Homo sapiens: one gene and its partners. The protein of the gene in region 4 interacts with the protein of the main gene of each other region in a pairwise test. Each region holds a gene or a part of one and is shown on either strand. Other genes may lie near its edges.

Evidence for each region.
Region 1: the proteins of ZNF655 (region 4) and DPF2 interact in binary tests that used the Homo sapiens proteins (3 or more experiments, as listed by UniProt).
Region 2: the proteins of ZNF655 (region 4) and CEP57L1 interact in binary tests that used the Homo sapiens proteins (3 or more experiments, as listed by UniProt).
Region 3: the proteins of ZNF655 (region 4) and FKBP6 interact in binary tests that used the Homo sapiens proteins (3 or more experiments, as listed by UniProt).

The regions. Positions count from the first base shown.
Region 1 is NC_000011.10:65,343,852-65,347,351, forward strand, and holds part of DPF2 (zinc finger protein ubi-d4), read left to right. Parts: intron 1-139; coding exon 140-218; intron 219-728; coding exon of another isoform or gene 729-770; intron 771-1,814; coding exon 1,815-1,952; intron 1,953-2,078; coding exon 2,079-2,207; intron 2,208-2,395; coding exon 2,396-2,508; intron 2,509-3,500. UniProt on the Homo sapiens protein: Plays an active role in transcriptional regulation by binding modified histones H3 and H4. Is a negative regulator of myeloid differentiation of hematopoietic progenitor cells. Might also have a role in the development and maturation of lymphoid cells.
Region 2 is NC_000006.12:109,144,007-109,147,506, forward strand, and holds part of CEP57L1 (centrosomal protein CEP57L1), read left to right. Parts: intron 1-1,212; 5' UTR 1,213-1,215; coding exon 1,216-1,375; intron 1,376-2,751; coding exon 2,752-2,931; intron 2,932-3,500. UniProt on the Homo sapiens protein: Centrosomal protein which may be required for microtubule attachment to centrosomes.
Region 3 is NC_000007.14:73,334,661-73,338,160, forward strand, and holds part of FKBP6 (inactive peptidyl-prolyl cis-trans isomerase FKBP6), read left to right. Parts: intron 1-3,500. UniProt on the Homo sapiens protein: Has an essential role in spermatogenesis. It is required to repress transposable elements and prevent their mobilization, which is essential for the germline integrity.
Region 4 is NC_000007.14:99,568,642-99,572,141, reverse strand, and holds part of ZNF655 (zinc finger protein 655), read right to left. Parts: intron 455-3,500; coding exon of another isoform or gene 350-454; intron 1-349. UniProt on the Homo sapiens protein: Probable transcription factor.

The DNA of each region.
Region 1 (3,500 bases), on a different chromosome or scaffold from region 4:
TGCTGCCTGCATCTTGGGACAGGGTGGCCTAGGGAATTCCTTATTTTATTTCAAGTGAGATTAGCGGCCACTTCCAAAAGAGTCTAACTCCTCAGGCCCAGCTACCAAAATAAGGGTGTCTCTTTGCTCTTCTTGGCAGGGTAAGGGTGTGGGCAGTGCCCGTAAGAAGCTGGATGCTTCCATCCTGGAGGACCGGGATAAGCCCTATGCCTGTGACAGTGAGTGCCTCACAAGTGGGTGGGTAGACCTTGCCTTGGACCCAGCTCCTGCTCTGGATATGAGAGGAGGGAGGGTTGTGTTTTTGCCCAGAGTATTAAAACAAACCTGGGCTCTTGTCCTGCCTGCTGACTGCTTCCGTCTGAGACCCCTGGGAGGCCTGGGTCCCTGCTATATGACGGGTGGGACCTGCATGCTCTGGGAAAGATTTCTGCCATCCTCTGGGGTAGGGTTGCTTGTGGGGGCCACAGCAGGCAGGGTTGGCCTCTCAACAGATGGCCTGCAGGTCTCCTGGCCTCAGTTAAGCCAGGGCCCCAGGGGTCTGACACTGAGTTTTTCAACGTCTGTTCTCTTTTTCTTTCTGTCTGCCTTGCCCCACTTCTGTCCCTCCACCCTGGGAGCACCATCGCCGCTGGGGTTTCTCTCTCGTTTGCTCTGCTTTCCTGCTGCTGCTGCTCCTGTCTCAAGTGTATCAAGGCCTTCTTCTCATGACTTTTCTTTCTGTCTTTCAGATAGTTTCAAACAAAAGCATACCTCGAAAGCGCCCCAGAGAGGTAGCTCTCTCAACTTTTCAGACTTGTGGTTTTCCTTTCCCTTTTTCCCTCTTCCCTTGTTCCTCCTGCCTTTCTCATTTCCTGGGATGCTAGCTTTAAAATCTCTGGAATGGCATGGGGGTAGGAGCAGTGGAATTTCTGCTGTGCTCTACTCCTCAAAGTCCTGAAGGCTGCCTTTACCACTGCTTGTTTCCCACAAACCTGCTCCTAGAGCTGCTCGGCCCAGTGCATGGGGTGGCTTCAGAAGCATTATCAGGAGCCCATTACAATCAGACCCTTCCGCTCCCTCCCCAGACCAGGCAGCTGGTGGTCAGCTCATGTTCCCCACTGCCCCACCACCTCCTCCTGCCATCCTCTCTCCCCACTCCTTTCCTGCTGGCCCCCTTGCCCTTCTTGGTATTACTTCTCAAGATGACAAAATGCCTCATGGGGATCTGCTTTCCTTGCTGATTGGCAGGCCTGGACAGGGCAATTACATGGGAGTGTGCTTGAATTTCTTTGGGGACCAACTGCCCAACTGGCTTCATTGATAGGCTATCCCCAAGAAACCCATCCCCTGCTTGTTTACCCACATTCAGGGGAGATGGGCTCCATGGTGTGTGGGGTAGCATGAGCCTCCCACATTTACTGAGGGGTAAAAAAGTTTGGAGTCTTATCCACTTTTCCCCCTTCCTGCCACCCCAAAGATATAGGAATATCCTTCCCTTTCCTGACCTGGAGCGTCCCAGACTGTTAGTATATCCCAGAGCAACTAACTGGTGATGGGGCAAGGGCTAAGCCCCCCAAAAGTCAACATGGAAGAGCAGTGGTGGCCATGGGGTTGGAGTTCAGGAGGGAAAAGAGCCCCAGAAGCTAGAGAGCCCCACGGCCTGATGCTCCTGGCTGAGGGGAAGTGGCCGTCACTCAAGGCCTGTCCCAGAGTGGAGCTGCTAGGGGAAGGGATGGTTGCCCTCTGCCTCAGGTGGAGCCCCCACAGCTTGCAGGGATGGGGACATGGCACTCTTGTATCCTAACACCTTTCTCTGCAATCTTCTTCCCACTCAGTTTGTGGAAAACGTTACAAGAACCGACCAGGCCTCAGTTACCACTATGCCCACTCCCACTTGGCTGAGGAGGAGGGCGAGGACAAGGAAGACTCTCAACCACCCACTCCTGTTTCCCAGAGGTCTGAGGAGCAGAAATGTAAGCTGAGGTGTCAGAAGTGGTGGGCAAGCAGAAGTTGGCCTGGTTATGAAAACCACTCCTTGCATGGGTGTTGAGTGGCTCAGGGACCCCCATGGGTGTCATCAAAACTCTTTCTCTCTGTAGCCAAAAAGGGTCCTGATGGATTGGCCTTGCCCAACAACTACTGTGACTTCTGCCTGGGGGACTCAAAGATTAACAAGAAGACGGGACAACCCGAGGAGCTGGTGTCCTGTTCTGACTGTGGCCGCTCAGGTACTGCTTCCCGTGAAGGCTGCTGCTTTGCCCAGTCCCCAAGGGGCTCTTGGCTTGCTGGCCTCTAGGGCTGTCATAACCAGCCCACCTCGCTTTTCCTAACCAAGAGAAGATGTAGCCACAGGCAGGAGCTCCTCTCTTCCCCCCGCATTTCCGACTGTCTGTCTCACTCACTTCCCCCACTACAGGGCATCCATCTTGCCTCCAATTTACCCCCGTGATGATGGCGGCAGTGAAGACATACCGCTGGCAGTGCATCGAGTGCAAATGTTGCAATATCTGCGGCACCTCCGAGAATGACGTGTGTATCCCCGCCCCCTCCTCAGCATGGCTCCTTCTGGGCTTTTACTGCTGTTTGCACAGTTCCCTCTAAAGTGAGCTTTCTTTTAAAAAGGGAGCAGGATCCCTCCCACATGCCACACGCCCCTCCCTAGCATCTCAGTCAGAACTCTGATTTGTTGCCAGATATATATTGAGTGCTGATTTTATGTCAGACACTGTTCTAGTCACTAAAGATGCTAAAGACAAACAAGGTCCCTGCCTCATGAGATTTACATTCTTACAGGAACAACAATAAGCAAGGATGTAAATGAGATTTGTATAATGTGCCATGAAAAAAACGAAATCAGTACTGTGGCAGAGAATAATTGCATAAGTGATTTATTTTGATGGTCAGGTATGGCTCTTCTGGGAGGGTGATGCTGGTGTTGAAATTTTGGTGATACCAAGGAGCCAGTCAAGATTTGGAGGTAGAGGAATCCCAGGAAAGGAGCAGCCAGCGCCAAGGCCTTATGTTGGACAAGCCAGATGACAGGGCATGGGAGAGTATGGTGGGCAATGAGATGAGAGAGGCAAGCACTGCCAGATCTCTGGGGCCTCGGGTTTTATTCTAGGTACAACAGGACACTGTTGAAGGGTTTTACTCGGGAAGTGACATGGTTATTTATGTATTTATTTATTTACTTTTTTTTTTTGAGATGGAGTCTTGCTCTGTCGCCCAGGCTGGAGTACAGTGGCACAATCTCAGCTCACTGCAACCTCTGCCTCCTGGGTTCAAGTGATTCTCCTGCCTCAGCCTCCCAAGTAGCTGGGATTACAGACACGTGCCACCACACCCGGCTAATTTTGTATTTTTAGTAGAGATGGGGTTTCTCCATGTTTGCCAGGCTGGTATCGAACTCCTGACCTCCGGTGATCCGCCTGCCTCAGCCTCCCAAAGTGCTGGGATTATAGGCGTGAGCCACTGCACCCAGCTATTTATTTATTCTTTATGTATTTATTTATTTATTTTGA
Region 2 (3,500 bases), on a different chromosome or scaffold from region 4:
AGATGCGGTATCCCATGGGGAGCAGGCAGTGTCTGAGATAGCTGGTACTAATCACAATAGCAAAATATGGTTACCTTGCAAGAACAAAAAGCATCAAGTATCTTAGCAAACCTTAGGCTTTATAGCCTCTAATTTAGACCAATCAGAATGTTCTAGGAGATTGCCAATCATGGCAATGGCTAAAGTAGAAAATTCTAGGAAGTGAAGTGTGCCTTCTGCCCTTCCAGAAAATACTATCCTGGGAAGTGCCTGCCTTTGCCTTGTGAATTGAGGAGGTGGTGAAATCATGGAAAATGTACAACTCTCAAAAATCAAAATAGGCTAATGTTATAGTGTAATTCTTGGATTTCCATTTTGAAGCAAGCTTTCTTGCTTAAAATTCTTCCAGTGAGTTATTTTTTTGTAAGCAGTTATCACCTTATGTGATTATGAATTAATTTAATTAACATTGACTGGAATCTATTAAAAAATAGAATACATTTCTAAAATATTTAAATTGCAGAAAGGAAAATAAAATTATTTGGAAATTTTAGACCAAAAATTACCTGCTTAAATGGTTAAAAGGGCTCTCTTACCAAAACAAAAACAACAACAAAATAAAAACCAGACTAACAAAACTAAGTAGTCTAGATTCTTCAGATTTGGAAACTTTCTAATCTAGATGATTAAAATGCTAATACATTAAGCAGAGGTGTGTCTTATTCAAAGGTTAAATTCCGATATTTCATATATCCAAAATTACCCTTGAAAATCCCTTAGGAAGCCATACATTAGAATTCAACAATCAGTATTAGAGAATCAGTGTATATTGTTGGTTTGTGTTTAAAAGCTCAGTTATCTTTTAGAATATGTACTTTCTCTTTAAATCCTAGAGTCACACTGCTTATAGAGAAGTGCTCAGACTATGATAGGTATATGGGATTTATGGGTAACTGAGAAACCAGTAAATTCAAATCACTCATGTGATGCTTACTCCAGGGTATATGATTATTGAAAATCAGGCAGAATTGTCAGTACTGCTTACACAAGAAATAGTAACTTTTCTTTCTTTTATTGCCAAGCCTATTAGAGTTGAATTTATAATTAAGTTCATAAAGATACAACTCCACAGTATATGATTATGTTTTTAAAGTTTCACCTGAATTTTTGTATAATGCATTTACCCTTAAAATAGGAAAGCATGATACTATATCATTCCTTTATTCTCTACAGATAATGGATTCTGAATTAATGCATAGTATAGTAGGAAGCTATCATAAACCTCCAGAAAGAGTATTTGTTCCCTCATTCACCCAGAATGAACCATCTCAGAATTGCCATCCTGCAAACTTAGAAGTTACCTCTCCTAAGATACTTCATAGCCCAAATAGCCAAGGTAATGCTGATATAAAATTTGAAGAATGGTAAAAACATGCTATAAAAAACTTTTCATATTTATGTGGAATACAATATGATTGCATATTTAATCTTAACAAAACTCCTAACTTTGATTCTGTTGCTAAAAGTTTCTATGAACTTAGACAAATTACTTGACATTTTTTATTTTGGCTTCTTCAGCCATAAAATGAAGATTAATACAACCAGCTGGACACATATCACAGAGTTATCATAAAAACATCATTTGAAAACAGGAAAATACTCTTTGAAGAATAAAAGGTCAGATTTGGAATACTAAACTAGATGATTAGAATGTTAGTGAATTAAATGGAATTGCATCTTATTCAAGAATTAGATTCAGAAATTACATATATCCAAAATTATTCTTGAAAATATTTTAGGAAGCCAGTATATCAGAGTAACTACAAAATACTAGTATTTTAACGTTTAAAATAGAAATGTAGGAGGATCTTAAAATTGAATTAGGAAAACATTTTATTACTCCAGGCATATTTTAAGCTGTGCAAATTCTTTTCTGAGATGCTGATATCACCTACTTTTAAAATCTTCTATAATAATGGTTGCTGTTAATAAATAAACTAGTTTTGTGGAATAAACTATAAGAAATAATAATGCAAATCAATGTGCCAGCTACAGATATCATGTAAAGAGGAATAAATATAATTTATTTATCTCATTTATAAAAACAAAATGGTAATCTCTAGCAAGCATCTTTCTAATTTGATATAAACTATATGACAGTTAAAACTCTGAACTTATCTGAAGCATGAAGATATTAATATAGTTGAATATAAGTCACAGTAGTATAGAATACTATTATCTTTCAGGTCTGACATCAGGTAAACCATTAGGTTATAATTATCCTGGTTCTTAATACTGCATCATGGACAAAGAAACAGTAAATATGTGTGATTTGACTAAAACGGAATACCTCAAGAACTGAGAAAAAAAGCCTATAACTTTAAACCTAAATTGCCATGTTAATTAGTAGAAATTATATTTTAATGTTCTTATTCATATTTATACTCTTATGCTCCCCAGACTGTACATTGTCTTTAAGTCCTTTCATTTGTAAATATTTTATTAAATTAAAATTGTGGTTATTACCTTTCTCAGTCTTAGAAACCACTAAATACAATAATAGATATAGTGTTTTTACAAGATATATTAGAGAGAAAATGTGCGCCTCTTCAAAGTGTTAGTCATTATTTTTCATTTTTTGAAGAATATGCATTACTTGTACATTTTTCTGGCTCAGTAACAAAAATATACTGCTTATTTTTCTTATGTTACTTTGATTGTAAGTGTTCAGAAACTTTCACTTAAAATATCAACAAAATTTTTTTTCAACAGCTCTTATTTTAGCCTTAAAAACTCTTCAGGAAAAAATTCATCGTTTAGAGCTGGAGAGAACACAAGCTGAAGATAACCTGAACATTCTTTCCAGAGAAGCAGCACAGTATAAGAAGGCCTTAGAGAATGAAACAAATGAGAGAAATCTGGCACACCAGGAGCTGATAAAGCAGAAAAAAGGTAAGAAATGCAGTAGTTCTCAGAAACCGGGGGTTACTGGAGTTTACAGTTCAAAAATAATAAACCTAGTCTAAGCCGATGTACTCAGATATCTTTATTCTTATATATATTCAAACTTCATGACTTTGTTCTCAGACCTTTTGATATTTGTGAGAAAAAGATACAGTTTTGAACTTACCTCTATCATATCTTACTTATCATAATTCATAAATTCTAGAAATTAAAGGAAAAATTAAGATTTTAGACAAGTTGTGTTTAAAAATTAGAATATTTTCAGAATAGCCAACAAACTCCAATTTAACCCGTAATTGAATATTTATTTTTTATTTTATTTATTTGTATTTGCAGTTAACACTAAACTTTAGAATTTGAAATACAGAACAACACTAGTAATTAAACAATGTAAAACCAATAAAAATGAATACAAAAGAATTTTATTTAATGAGAGGAAAGCAAGGTTAATTAGAAGACATAGGCAAATGGGGGAGGCTTCTGTGGAAATTATGAAAAATTTTAGAAATTTAGAACATAAGTCTTTTAAGTAATTTCACTTCAAAACTTAAGACTTT
Region 3 (3,500 bases), about 26 Mb from region 4:
CCCCTCCCTAGCATTCTGTTCTTGTTTCATGTGTATATTATTTTATATATTTAGACTGTCGATTATAATTTAATCTCATTCTTTTTCTGTTTGGTTTTTCTACATATTGGGGACTGTGTCCTTTTGCACTAAGTTTGTCAATGACCTAAAGATGGTTTATTTCTCACTCATGTAAAAGGCTAGAGTAGAGGCATGCAAGCTAGGGCCAGTTGGTGACTCTGCTGCAGATATTTTCAGATACCCAGTTCTCATTTCTGGGGTGAGACTCTGGCCTTGTAGTCCAAGATGAGGGTCTCTGAGTTCTAGCAGCAGAAGGGAAGAAAGGCTGAAGGCATGTACAGCTCTGTTAAGGAAGGTCCTTGTCATATGATGCTTCTACTGAATTATGTTTTCCAGAACCTGTTCTCCAGGCTTTGCCTAGCTGCAAAGAAGCCTAGCAAATATCTAAATTCTGGTTGTACGTGTTCCTGGCCAAAAAAAAAAAAAAAAAAAGTCCTATTACTGTGAAGGAAGGGAGGGCAGCTGCTGGGAGGCAGGAGGCCACCTCTTTCACAGAGGGTTTCCTCAAATGGCTGGTGATCTTTGACCACTAAGATTTAAAAGAGACATCACAAAGCTGATTGGGAGCTCCAGGTGCTTGGTGGGGCAGGTTGCAGTGTGGTCAAAGACAGCCTGCACACATTAGAGTATGTAGGTGTTTCCTCAGGGTCCATTGAGTCCTCCTCTTTCTGCCCCGTGTGTGTGCCAAGGGACCGGCATTCTGGGAGCCAAGCTGGGCAGCAGGACAGAGGTTCTCACTGTCTGGTATTGAGATTCCTTTTCATAGCCGCGTTACCAGTATACCACCTTCCTGCTGTCTGCTCCAGCCTGCCCCCAAGTCAAGGGCCTCTTTGGTTCCATTTTCCCAGAAAGGAGACCTCGTGATTGCTGAGGCCATCTGGACACATAGGGGCAGTGGACGGGGTGGGGAACATTTGACCTGACCTCCTTTATTCAGCCCCACCAGATAGCTCTAATTCCTGGTTCCATCAGTTCCTAGGTCTCTCCAGGCTCTGAGGGGCAGACCGGTCCCTTTTACATTGGCACCACTCTGCCAAATCAGTCATCACACTGCCACCCACCCTGAACCTTTGGGTTTATTGGTCCTTTTCCTGTCCTTTGCTTGTGTTGGAGTACTACCTGTCTTAGTCCCTTAGGGTTGGAGAAAGTAGGGATGTGTGTGGAGCCTGCCTTGCTGAGCCAGAGGTTTTGCACGTCTTTTCCTAGTGGAAAGTTTCTCCGTCTTTGGAGCAGCGGACTGACATTGTCAGCACCACTGTGTCTCCACCTTTTGCTCAGCATTGTCTGGGTCACACAAGTATGGGGTTTCCTGCTTTCAAGGGATTTGAATCTAGTTAGGGAGTTAAATGCAGCTCCAACAGCTAACCAATACCTATGGTCTGAATGTTTGTGTCTCCCCAAAATGTGTATGTTGAAACCTAATCATCCATGTGATATTAAGAGGTGAGGCCTCTGGGAGATGATGAGGTCATGAAGATGAAACCCTCTTACATGGAGTTAGTGGCCTTATAAAAGAGGTCCCTGAGAGCTGTCTTGTCCTTTCCACCATAAATTCTCGGCAGGAAAAAAGATGAACAAAGTGATCAGAACCTATTCAGGCCACAGTTGGTAGATTCCTAGTCAGAAACATAGGTTACATCTAAGGAATCATAGGTGATAGGAGGCGGCCAGATTCAGGAAGACATTCAAATATGTGTGGATGGATTTGGACTTGATGAAGTGGATGGCAGGGAACCACTGAGGAAGAGTGTGTTGATAAAAGTCATATTCGGGGAAGAGGCAGTAGTTGTGCTGGAGCTCGTGAAAACTCAAAATTTCAATTGTAAAATTTTCAGGAGTTTTGTGCCCTCGTTAATGTCACTTTGGTAGTTTGAAATCAGCTCTGGGAGGAATATTTACAGCATAGGAATAGGCAAATGCTACAAACAGGGGTCCACCTCCCCCGAGAGCTGGCTATTAAACATGTACCAGCACACCACTGTGTGCAGGACATGTCAAATGACAAACTTCATTTTAATGAGGCTCTGTTTCATGTTAGGCACCGTGCTGGGTGTGCTGCGGCTGAACCTGTTAACAGGGTCCAGGAATGTGTTAAAGCAGCTGTGAGTTGTGCAAATAGAAGAAAAAGCTCTGGAAGTACTTCCACAAAATGGATGGTTAGACTTGATGACGTTGTATATGATGAAGTTGTATATATAAGAGATCAAGGAAACAGAAGAAGGGAATGACTTGAAACTTCCTGGTCTGAGAAAAAAATTTAAACCAAGGAATAACTGGGAAAGAAATGTGTTACTTTCAATTTTGATTACTCATGGGAATGAGCAGGTAAGCAGGGCCTGTAGAAAACTGTTTCCAGCTGACAACTTGCTTCACAATTTCATTTGGGTATGAGAGCAGGGTTCAGGCGTGAGGTTCCAGCTGGTGATGTGAATGGGAGCTGAATCCATTCAGAAGGTATGGAGACAGTTGATGGGAACTTGCCTGGTGAATGCCCAGAGTTTAGAGATGGAAGGGAGGACCAAGGAAGGCTCATGACTTTCTGCCTGTGCTGCCATCTCCTGACACATTTTCTCCAGTTCTTCCATGTTCTTTTTTTTTTTTTTTTTTTTTTGAGACAGAGTCTCACTCTATCACCCAGGCTGGAGTGTACTGGCGCCATCTCGGCCTCACTACAACCTCCGCCTCCCAGGTTCAAGGGATTCTCCTGCCTCAGCCTCCCAAGTAGCTGAGATTACAAGCGCCTGCTACCACATCCAGCTCATTTTTTGTATTTTTAGTAGAGGTGGGGTTTCCATGTTGGCCAGGCTGATCTTGAACTCCTGACCTCAGGTGATCCGCCCGCCTCGGTCTCCCAAAGTGCTGGGATTCCAGGTGTGAGCCATCGTGTCCGGCCTTCCAGTTCTTCCATTCTACTTGCACCTTCCAAATGGAGTTCCAGGGAGTGCAGGCTCTGCCTTCATCCATTTTTTTTTGTTTTACTATTTTTTTTCTTGTTGTTGAGATATGATTCACATACCATAAAATGTGTGCTTTTAAAGTGTCCAATTCAGTGGTTTTTAGTATATTCACAAAGTTGTGCAGCCATTGCCACTATCTAATTCCAGAACATTTTCCTCACCCCGAAATGAAACTCACAATTCTTTGGCCTCAGATAGCCTCTGTTCTCCTTTGTTTCTATGGATTTGCCTATTCAGGACATATTTTGTAACTAGAATTGTCAAATATGTGTCATTTTGTGGCTGTCTTATTTCACTTAGCATGTTTTTGAGGTTTATCCATGTTGTAGCTTGTACAAACCTCATTCTTTTTTTGTTTTTTGTTTTTTATGAGACAGAGTCCCTGTTGCCCAGGCTGGAGTGCAGTGGCACGATCTCGGCTCACTGCAACCTCTGCCTCCCAGGTTCAAGCGATTCTCCTGCCTCAGCCTCCCAAGTAGCTGG
Region 4 (3,500 bases):
AAGAAAAGTTTATTTACTCTGAAAAACAGGCACAAAATCTCAACAGCAGAAGTTAAGGGCATAAACAGGAGCAGTGAGGTAAAACAGCGGACATGTTCAGCAGAGTAAGGAAATAATAGGGAAACAGCTGAAAGAATTTTAGATAAGCAACTTGATTGGGGTCTAGTACGACATGTGCACGGATACTAAACAAATGGAAAGGGTCAACCTAACTGAAGGGAAAAGGAAGGAACTCTCCATGCTAGGACACACACAGAGCTCTTCATTCTGAGTGCCAAAGCAGCTACAACTTGGCTCAACAATTGAACTTTACTTCCCTACTAATTCTATCTGATTCTGCCTTACTCACCTGAGCAGTCATCTCTTAAGACTTCTCTAGTCTTAGTTTCCAGATCAAAGACCTGTAGATCCTGTTCCAGCTGGGAGATCCCATCAGGCTTGGAAATTGGAAATCCTGCTCATAGAGAAGGAAATGGGATGTGGCAATGTATCCCCAGGTCCTACATCTGCCACTTTTTCTTTTAACTAATGATTAAGAGAGACAGAAGGTCGATTCTGAGAAGACATTAATTAGGAAGGTCTGGAGAGTGAAGAGGGCAAAGATCTACAAGGAGCTCAGATTTGTGCTCTAGAGGGATGTGTGTTAAGGGGCAAGTTGATGACTTGGGAGCAGAAGGATTCATTTAAATATTATTCAGACAACAGAATGTGTGCATGGGTTTGTCTTCACAGAAGTTATCATTATCACTCTCCATCTGTTACCTAAAGATTAATCTTCGGATTAGATCTGGTCTACAAGTATCAAAATGGAGGTCATCAAAATGTAATTCTGCTGGACTGGAGAAAGGTGAAACTCAAGCACCTGCTGCATGGTTAGCTAACCTGTAGCAAGAGAATCAGTGAAAACTGAATAAATATTCTAAGGACCAATCTCAAGAAACAATTTGTTTCAGTACACATAAGAAAACAAAGAGTAATATGACACATTCTTACCCATTAGGAGTGTAGCATTTATTCAACAAACATTTATGAAGTGCCTCCTCTATGCAAAGTATGCAGGGGATAAGAGGCCAAGAAGGTCCCTTCCCTCAAGGACCTCACACTCTACACAGAGACAGCTCTAAACAACTAACTACAATAAAATATAGAGAGGGAAGTGCAATCAGTGCATCTTCACATAAAACAGTCTTTCTATGGCTTGCATAATGCAATGCTTGGATATAAATCTCTTTTAAAGCTAAAGCAACAGGCAGTCTGCTTCCAAGGAGACAGAATTTTAATACTATTAGTATCAAAGGGCAGTTTTTAAATGTGTCCAGCCCAGAAAGCTTCTAATAGCACACATACAAGGTCTGGCTCAAGCCCCTCATCTCCAAAAACCTTTCTCTCCATTTACTGAATGTGTACAAAATTTATTAGTTGTTCCCTCTTATCCTGACATGTCACATATAACGGTGTTTACATAGATTTTTTTTTAAGTGGTTTCAGGTATTGTCATTCATACTTGATTTATAAACTCTTTGATAGAAGGGACCAGGTATCTTGTATCTTGCAATTCTTTTGATTAATTTACTTAACGGCTACTTATTGAGTGCCAACTCTGTGCGCCCAAGTATCAATGTATTAACAGCTACCCAATTTTATAAAAAGGGCATTGGGGCTGGAAAATATGAAGAACTGACAGCTGCCCCAAAGATTCCATGTGAGAGCCTATGAGCAAGGAGATCAGAATAGATAGAAGAAAGGTATTTACTGTGTTTCTGAAATCCTGTGGGACATTTAGAGTCAACTCTCCTTGTGGACATATATTTAATTAAGGTCCACCCTGTCAAATGAAATCGTTTCAGAAGTTTAAAAAGTAAAGTTAGTGTAACATGAAGCAGCAATCAATATTGTTCTCAGAATTCCAATAACATAATTTGCAACTTTTAACTCTGAGATATTTAAAGTGTCTGTCGATATTTGGTAACTGAAATAAATTCTGGCTGCTTACTCCATATCTACACTTAAAACACATATGCACAACAAAAAAGGTGGTCTTCATGTGGGATGAGGGGTTTGATTTTAGATGTGTGTTTAATGTAATGTACGAAGGTATAAGAGAAAATGCCCAGCAGATGAGTACGCAAAGGCATACAGAGTGATAAAATGGACTTCAGAGACTAAGAAGGGAAAGGGTGGGAGAAGGGACAAGGGATAAAAAACTATATATTAGGTACAATGTACACTATTCCAGTGACAGGTGCACTAAAATCTCAGAATTCACCACTATGTATTAGAATTCATCCATGTAACAAAAAACCACTTGTACGCCCCCAAAACTACTGAAATAATTTTTTTTAAAAGAGAAAATGCCTAGCAGGTAAAGATACAATATCACAGTTTAGAAGAGAGAACAGGGTATCATCAGTACCATCAAAATATTATTAAGTTTTACTAAGTACTTGGTAGGTGCAAAGTACCATGCCAAGAGCTCTCTAGGTTTTCACTCATTTAATACCATAAATTTAAAACGTAGAAACTATTATTATAGCCATTTTACAGATGGGAATACTAAGATTCAGAGTGGTTAAGTAGCTTGCCCAAGGTTACAATAACTGGTAATGCTTAGTTTTCAAACCTGCACAGTCTTATTTCAGAACCTAGCCTTTAAACAATCTGCTAGTAAAAAAAAAATTATGATTTTGCCTCCTAACAAGCCCTGAAAAAAAATAAATAATGACTGTGAACAAAATCCATCCCTTCCTCCAAATTACACACAGAAAGAACGTGTAAGTTTTCTTGGCACTAGCCTAAATGCCTATTTCCTAAATTTAACTCAAAACTTTGCTTTCAAAATATGCACTTGCTTTATTTACATTTTTCCTGTTTAAAATTAATGTATTAAAACTTTTTGATTTTATTTAAATCTTGAGTTTTCTAATATGATTTATAAAATATTGACAGTGAAGTAAAAGGTAAATACAAACAACAGAGAAAAAGTGATTAGAATAACATACGGTGAACCAGGATCCTAAATAATTGGAGTCGCAGAAGTGTTAATTAAAAGGGATCTATGGCTGGGCACAGAAGCTCACACCTGTAATCCCAGCACTTTGGGAGGCCATGACGGACAGATCACTTCAGCCCAAGAGTCTGAGACCAGCCTGGGCAACATAGTGAGATCCCACCTCTACAAAAAATACAAAAATTAGCCAGGCATGGTGGCACACGCCTGTAGTCCCAGCTACTTGGGAGGCAGAGGCAGAATGATCGCTTGAGCTCAGAAGGCCGAGGCTGCAGAGAGCCAAGATCACACCACTGTACTCCAGCCTGGGTGAGAGTGAGATCCTGTCAGTCAGTCAGTCAGTCAATCAACCAACAAACGAATCAAGAGGATCTATGGACCAGGCATGGTGGCTCACACGTGTAATCCCAGCACTTTGAGAGGTCAAGGCAGGAGGATCTCATGAGCTCAGGAATTTGAGACCTGCTTGGGGAACATAGTGAGACTCCATCTC